2 linked regions of the Homo sapiens genome follow. The protein of the gene in region 2 purifies or fractionates together with the protein of the main gene of each other region. This does not show direct contact. Each region holds a gene or a part of one and is shown on either strand. Other genes may lie near its edges.

Region 1 (3,810 bases), on a different chromosome or scaffold from region 2:
CACTCAACACAGGCTCAATGAATGTTGGGATGAATTGAAAAACTATACAATCCCTATTTCAACTGAAAAATAAGATGTAATCAAAAATTCATCATTTTCTTGGGCAGCTGAGCCTCCTCTACCCTATTCCAAGTGGGTGGACCAAAACATTCTCCCCAAATTACTCCTGCCCTGAGCTGCCTCCTTCCCAATCCCACTCAGGCCAAAATATTCCATGTAGCAGCTACCTATGGAGAAAAGAGGGAATCTTGAGGGCAGCTCATCTTCTCTCTGCAACTACAAGAGGTAGTCTAGTGCAATGGTTAAGACCATGAGCCCTGGAGAAAGAGCTCAAGAAATGCCAGCTTAAAAAAAAAAATTAAGATTCTCCTCAAAGCAAGAGGAATATATCATGATATATATTCATAAGAGCTATCTTAGTTGCAAATTTTCCCTGAATGACAACAAACTGACAGTACTTCAAGTAAATGCTTTACTGATAATTATAACTATCATTTACTGAGTGTCTCTGTGCCAGCCTGAGTGAGACTCTCAGGTATACAGTCACATGCCACTTAACAATGGGGTTATGTTCTGAGAAAAGTGGTATGTCACTGCGCAAACATCAGTGTACTTACAAATCTAGGTAGTATAGTGTACTACCTACATTACATGGTACAGCCTACTGCTCCTAGGCTCCAAACCTATACAGCATGTGACTGTACTGAATACTGTAGAAAACTGTAACACAATGGTGTTTGTGTACTTAAATATATCTAAACGTGGACAAGAAAAAACACAGTATAAACAATAATAAATGGTACATCTACATAGGACTGGAAGTTACTCTGGGTGAGCCCGTCAGTGATGGTAAGTGAATGGGAGAGCCTAGGGCCCTACTGTACACTTTTATATGACTAGCAAAGAAGTAGGGTTGTTTAGACCAGCATCACCACAAACACGTGAGTAATGCGTAGCACTACAACATTTTACAATGGCTACAATAACACTAGGTGATAGGAATTTTTCAGCTTCATTATAACCTTATGGGACAACTGTCACATATACAGTCTGTTGTTGACTAAAATGTCAACTGGCACATGACTATATTTCATTCATTTCATACACATTTGCCCCACCCTCCTGGCTGGAAAACGTAAGTAAACATTCTCCCCTACAGCCTCCTGAAGGAATGCAGTACAGCAACCCTAGAGAGATCCCTTTTAGTCTCCTGACCTTCAGAAGCATAAAATAATGAATTTATGTTGTTTTAAACCATTGAGTTTGTGGTAATTTGACAAGAAGCAACAGAAAAACTCAGACAGACATACAGATATTGCCTCTAAAGATTTTTTTTTTTTTTTGAGACGGAGTTTCGTTCTTGTTGCCCAGGCTGGAATGCAATGGCGTGATCTCGGTCACTGCAACCTCCATCTCCTGGGTTCAAGTGATTCTCCTGCCTCAGCCTCCTGAGTAGCTGGGATTACAGGCATGAGCCACCACGCCCAGCTAATTTTGTATTTTCAGTAGAGATGGGGTTTCTACATGTTGGTCAGGCTGGTCTCGAACTCCTGACCTCAGGTGATCCACCTGCCTCGGCCTCCCAAAGTGCTGGGATTACAGGCGTGAGCCACCGCACCCCGCCTAAAGATTTATTGTAAAGGAGGCAGCAAAATAATATTTTTCAATCCTCATAGCCTGCAAGGTAAATATCATGATCTCTGTTTTAATAAAGAGGAAACTGAGACTTGGATTAATAACTTGACCAAGGACATACAGCTAATAAGTGACAGCAGCTGAATTCAAACTCAGATCTGTCAGATCCCTGAGCCACAGAGTGGTGTTTCCATCACAGGCGTGATCTCATCCTGGGAGTCTGGGTCTGCAGATGAACTGCACGGGCTGCCACTAGCATAGGGGAAAGAAGCGGATAAGGGCTCCAAGACCCCCACTGTCACCCTCCCATGCCCATCCCTCAACCACAGCCACTAAGCCTTTCTATTTCATCATTGGGCATTGACACAAGGTTTCGCCTGAAGAGGCCCACTGGTTAAAAGCTCAAATGTGGGCCAGGCGCAGTGGCTCACGCCTGTAATCCCAGCACTTTGGGAGGCCGAGGCAGGTGGATCACGAGGTCAGGAGTTTGAGACCAGCCTGGCCAACATGGTGAAACCGTCTCTACTAAAGATACAAAAAATTAGCCGGGCATGGTGGTAGGCAGCTGTAATCCCAGCTACTCGGGAGGCTGAGGCAGGAGAATTGCTTGAACCCGGGAGGCGGAGGTTTCAGCTAGCTGAAATCACGCCATTGCACTCCAGCCTGGGTGACAGGGTGAGACTCTGTCTTAAAAAAAAAAAAAAAAAAATGACATGCACATACACATACACACTTGAACAATACTGTACAACATGGTCTTTCTCTGTCCAGGAGACTCAGTGCATCTCCTAATGGACTCTGTGTTGACTGTTTAATGGGCATGGGCATGGCAACAATACAAAGAATCCACACCCTTTACACTTAAAGGCCACTATGAAGCCTGACCTTCTCGGGCAGAGCAAGTAGCCAGGTCACCGGCCTGAGTAACTCAGCCCTGACTTCCGAGAGTACAGATGGCTTAGTCTTTAAAGATAACCAACCGTGAATCTATGTAAACATGATGCAACAAAGCTGGCAACCTCTGTGAAGAGCCAAATGGAAAGACAGTACGTATTTTTGGTTTGCGGGCCATGTGATCTCTGTGGCAACTAGTCCGCTCTGCTGGTGTAGTATGAACACAGGACATTAAGGAATGGGTGTGGCTGTGTTCCAATAAACTACTTACAAAAACAGGCAGCAGGCCAGATTTTCTGGTCCATGGGCCACAGTTTGATGACCACTGACTAAAAGCATAAAAAAAACCAGTAAGGTTACCTTTACTGTTGTTTATTGATTTAAGTCTCCTGTAATATAGGCACCCATCCTAAACAGCAAGATTGTTTCCCTTAGTTACTGGGAGGTAGGTAAGGATTTTGAAATCAAGAAACACACAAGGCATTGAGTAAGAAACAGGCTAATTATAACTTCGAGACACAAGAAAAACAATAAGTATATGCAAATGTGTCAGGTTGGTAGAATCTTTGGAATGGTTTAAAATAACTATTGTTTTATTGCTAAAGGAAATTAAGTTACATGTTTTAAGAAAGAGTATAAAGTTGAATTATGGAACTACTCCTATCCATGTAACGTTCTTTTCCTCAACAACCTCTTCTGCTGGGGATTGGCTATGTTCCCATCGATGTTAACTGCTCAAAGACAGATTTTCTCAGCAGCAAGATGCCAAGGAACCTGCACATGATTAAGCCACCTGAATCCCCAGAGAAGGAATCCTCAAGAACTTTCCTGATTACTACTGTTCTGGTAACTATGCAGGGGGCACAGAGATAGCCTGACATATAACCAGGATGAAAATGAGTCACACTGGAATTTTAGCAACAACAACAAAAAAAACTAAGGGATCCCTGGCTATGTTCTGCCTAAGCAACTTCCAGCCCTGTGCTGACCATCGTCTTGGATGTGGAGAAGCTGCCCAAGGCCAGAGCTTCCATTTTTCCTCTAGAGGAGTCAGTGGTTCACTGAATTCTCTTTCTTCCTGTTGGACTTGAACTGTACATGAAAACAGGTTATTTGGGAAATGAACTTAATACTTCCTTAACCCACTTCTCCAAGTGCAAACCACCAAGACTCCTTCAGAAATTACATGTGCTGGCTGACAGCAATGAGAAGCACCCTGCCCTGAAACCCAGGGATATATTCCCACGGGGACCATCACACGAACTCTAAACCTTGAGCCTG
Region 2 (3,910 bases):
ATTCGCTCAAAATGTTTTTGAGTCTAAAGTCGACTCAAACTTAGGGCAACGAAAATAACACATTTTCCAAGCCTCAATGTTTTCACTGACATATACACATTTACAATCTTAAGGTGAACTCAGCCATAAGGGAAAATAGGAGCAGTGCCTTTTTCCTTTTTTGTAAACTGTGTCAGAAATCCAAGCGAGTGGACTCAGGGAGACTTCTAGTAGTTTGTTGTTGTTGTTTGTTTAGGAAGAAAATCCAATTGACAACTTTCATCTCACAAATATTTCTTGTTTGCGTTTCTTGCCCTTGAGAAAGAGCTCTTGCTCTGATTTGCAAATGGCGTGATAAACAAAAGAAACCGTGATCATCTCACACAAAAGGCCAGATTCGAGCCGGTCACTGGTCAAGAATGGATCTGGTTGGGAGTTCTGCTTGAGAGAACAGAGATCTGCAAAGTTCAAATAGTACAAACAGGGAGGCGAGGCTGCTCAGAGCCATCCCACTCCCAGAAACGAATGACACAAGCAGCTTTTCCCGTGTGCCAGCCATTTCAGACCTCACATTTGAACAGCGTGCATGCAACACGGACCGGGAGGGGGTTGGGGGTTGGGGGGCTGAGGGGCGAGGAAGAAGAATGAGAAACAAAAACAAAACCGACCATGAAACTTCCAACAAAACTGGAAAGGCCAACATGTCAAAAAGTTACTCCTCCACCTCCGTGGGTCAAAACGCAACAGGTTCCGAAGTGCAAAGCAAACGCCAACTGCTGCCGCACACAACCGCCTGCTTTCGAGTTGGCTGCCGAAGTGCGGGTCTGAAATGATCCTGCGAATTCACAGGCCTGCTCGCCCGCGCCCTTGCGCGCTTGGCCACTCCTGCCCCGCCTGGCCTCTCTGCCTCTACCTGGCACCTATACATTCTATGTACATACAAACCGGGCCCCCGGTCGCGGGAGGGCGCACGGGGAGGCCGCAGCGCTCGTACCTATACATATGTACACGTGTGCACACCGGTCCTCGCGAGGCGGCCCCGCGGGGTCATAGCGCGGCAGCGTAGGCCGCGGGGTAGGGGTCCAGCTGGGGCTTGCCCATGCCCGGCAGCAGGATGTAGGCGAGCGGCGGCTGCAGCCCGGGGCTGGGCCACGCGCTGCAGTTGCACGGGATCATGTAGCCCGGGTTGCCCGGGCTGGGGTGCGAGTGCGTGTGCCCCCCGGCGGCGGCGGCCGCCGCTGCAGCCGCCGCCGCCGCGCCGTGGAAGGCGCCCGCGCCCGCGGTCGGGTAGCCCAGCGACGACGCGTACGGGAGGCCGGACGAGGACGACGAGATCTCTGCCATTTTGGAGCCCAGGTCGAGCAGCGAGTAGGGGCTGCCCGCGGCGGCGGCGGCGGCGGCAGCGGCGGCGGCAGCGGCCGACTGCGGGAAGAAGACGCGTGCGGCGGCAGCGGCGGCGGCCGCGGCCGCCTTCTCGGGATTGGCGAGCAGCGACTCAGGCACCAGGCCGCCGCCCGCCCCCGCGTGCAGCCCGGCGCCCGCCTTGAGCGCAGGGTGCTCGGCGTCCGCCACGCCGCCCAGGCCGTAGGGCACCGGGAAGGCGAACTTGTCCTTCTTGAGCAGCGTCTTGGGCTTGCGCCGCGGCCGGTACTTGTAGTCGGGGTGCTCCTTCATGTGCATGGCGCGTAGACGCTTGGCCTCGTCGATGAACGGCCGCTTCTCCGACTCTGTGAGCAGTTTCCACTCGGCGCCCAAGCGCTTGCTGATCTCCGAGTTGTGCATCTTGGGGTTCTCCTGGGCCATCTTGCGCCGCTGAGCCCGCGACCACACCATGAAGGCGTTCATGGGCCGCTTGACGTGGTCCACCGGCTTGGACATGCTCTCGCCCTGCCGCGGCTGCAGCCCGCCGCCTCCCGGGCCCTCGCCCTCGGCCCGGAGGAAATCAATGTTGGCTGCCCGCGGAGACCCGCTCGGCCGGCCGGGGCTCGTCGCGCCCCGGCGTCGCTCCCGCCCCGGAGGAGGGGGCTGGGGGACCAGCCCAGGGCCACGCCGCGCCCCGGGCCGCCTTAGTGTCTCCGGCCGAGCGCTCGAGCAGGTTGTCTCTGGGACACTCTAACTTCTCGGCGGTGCCCCCTCCCCGCGGCGGCAGTTTGCCCTTTACGTTCTTTGGGTCCTTCGTCTGCAGTGGCGTTTGCTGGTGAGCTCCCCGCAGGTAGCGGCGGCCGGGCAGAGCGCTCCTCCTCCTCGGTCGTTCTCTCTTAAATGCAAAGCGTCCCCAAAAGTTGCGTCGCGGAGACTCCTCGAAGTTGAGCCGAGGAGCCCGCCGCCGCGTGCTGCCAAGTGCCAAAGGGGGCTCTCAGCGGCTGGAGTGTTTGGGTTCTCCTCGGTGACTTTCTCATTTGACAGAAGCAGATGGGGGTGGGGAAGGCGGGGAGGTGGCCCTGGAGGAGGAAGAGGAGGGGGAGGCGGAGGAGTGTCCAGGCGTGCCACGAGAACGCAGAGCGCAGCAATGGATATAAATACAAATACAGCAGCACCAGCCTGTCTTCTTGGCTCCGGGCAGGGTGCGCCGATGGGAAACCCCCAATCGGCTGGGTGATTTTTTTTTTTTGGAGGGGGGAGCTGTCCCCCGCAGCACCTGCCTCTCGAGTCTTCCTCTCCCGCTGCTGGACTGACGGGTGGGGCGAGGAAGGAGGGTGGATGAGGCTTGAGCAAGCGTTGGTCGCCCGGCCTCAGAGGAAGTTCTCCCGGCTCGCCGAGGAGCCGCGTCCGGCCGTCCCCTGGGCCATGCCGGCTCTGTTCGCTCCGAGCCCCTTCAGGCGCGCCTGCCGACTTAGGGCTCCCGGAGCTCGCCGGCCGCGGAGGGCAGCGCAGCCTCCACGCGGCGCCGCAGGCCTGGCACCGGCCGCGTCCCCGCCTCGCTCTTCTCGGCAGCCGCCTGGCACTTGCAACTAACTTCGCCCAAGTTTCCTGCGCCGCGGCGCCCCTCTCGGCGCGCTCCTGGGAGCGTGCGCCCGCGAGTCCGCCGCGCCCGGGGCCCCTCTGTCCTCGCTGCTGTGGCCAGAGCCGAGCCGGCGCAGGGGCGGAGGTGCTGCAGGAGAGTTAAGGAAAACGGGCCATCACCTCAGTTCGCAGGTCCGCGCTGTGGCACCTCCCGCTCTCCCCACTCCCGCGGCGCAGGGGGCCCCTTCCCAGCCCAGGCCGCCCTCTGCACCGGCTCAGGTGAGTGTGGCTACCTGCATGTGTGCGCGCCCGGAGCCGGCACTGGGTGTGCATGTCCAGCCGCGGCTGTGTGTGTATATCTGGGGGCCTGCGGAGGAGGTGGAGCCCAGGACTCGGGGAGGGAGGAGGGATCAGCGGAGCCGCCTCCCGCTCCCACACCCCCAGGACCTCGAATTAACAGATCCCCTCCGCCCCCCGCCCCCTCCCAATCCTCCTCCTCCCACTCCTTTTCACTTGAGAGCAGGTTTAGGCGAGTGGAGAGTCCGGAGCGCGCCGGGGAGTCTGCGCCCTGTTTGGCGTTGGCAAACCCTGGTGTCATCCCGGCTACCCAGGCCGGCCTGGCGTGCAGCTGCCCTGGTTGTGGCCCTGGAATCCTCGCCGGGAGGAAGAAGGCGGCGGGCACGAGTAGGAGAGCCTCTCCAGCTACGGAGGAAGAGGGTTAAACCTGGAGAAGGGGAGACTCACCCTTGAAAATGTTTGAGACTGTTCCTAGCAAGAAAGTGCTCATTTTCCTTGGAGGTCCAGGTGTTGCTTGCAACAGAAACAGAGGCTTCTCGCATTTTCTTGCACTGGCGATGCACCTAGTCAGAGGTAGTGGAGTGAAAAATAACTCTGGAGGGAATAAGGACATTCTTGGCAACCTTTCCAAAAAAGAGCTAGCCCAGACTGAGAGTATGCATCCTTGACTGACTATTCAGCTCTTTAAAAA

What was found.
Region 1: the proteins of SOX21 (region 2) and RIOX2 purify together in Homo sapiens (affinity purification with mass spectrometry; one large-scale study listed by BioGRID and IntAct). This does not show direct contact.

What each region holds. Positions count from the first base shown.
Region 1 is NC_000003.12:97,955,171-97,958,980, forward strand, and holds part of RIOX2 (ribosomal oxygenase 2), read right to left. Parts: intron 1-3,810. UniProt on the Homo sapiens protein: Oxygenase that can act as both a histone lysine demethylase and a ribosomal histidine hydroxylase. Is involved in the demethylation of trimethylated 'Lys-9' on histone H3 (H3K9me3), leading to an increase in ribosomal RNA expression.
Region 2 is NC_000013.11:94,710,193-94,714,102, forward strand, and holds the start of SOX21 (transcription factor SOX-21), read right to left. Parts: upstream 2,354-3,910; 5' UTR 1,858-2,353; coding exon 1,027-1,857; 3' UTR 1-1,026. UniProt on the Homo sapiens protein: May play a role as an activator of transcription of OPRM1. Overexpression of SOX21 can up-regulate the OPRM1 distal promoter activity in mor-expressing neuronal cells. May play a role in ameloblast differentiation.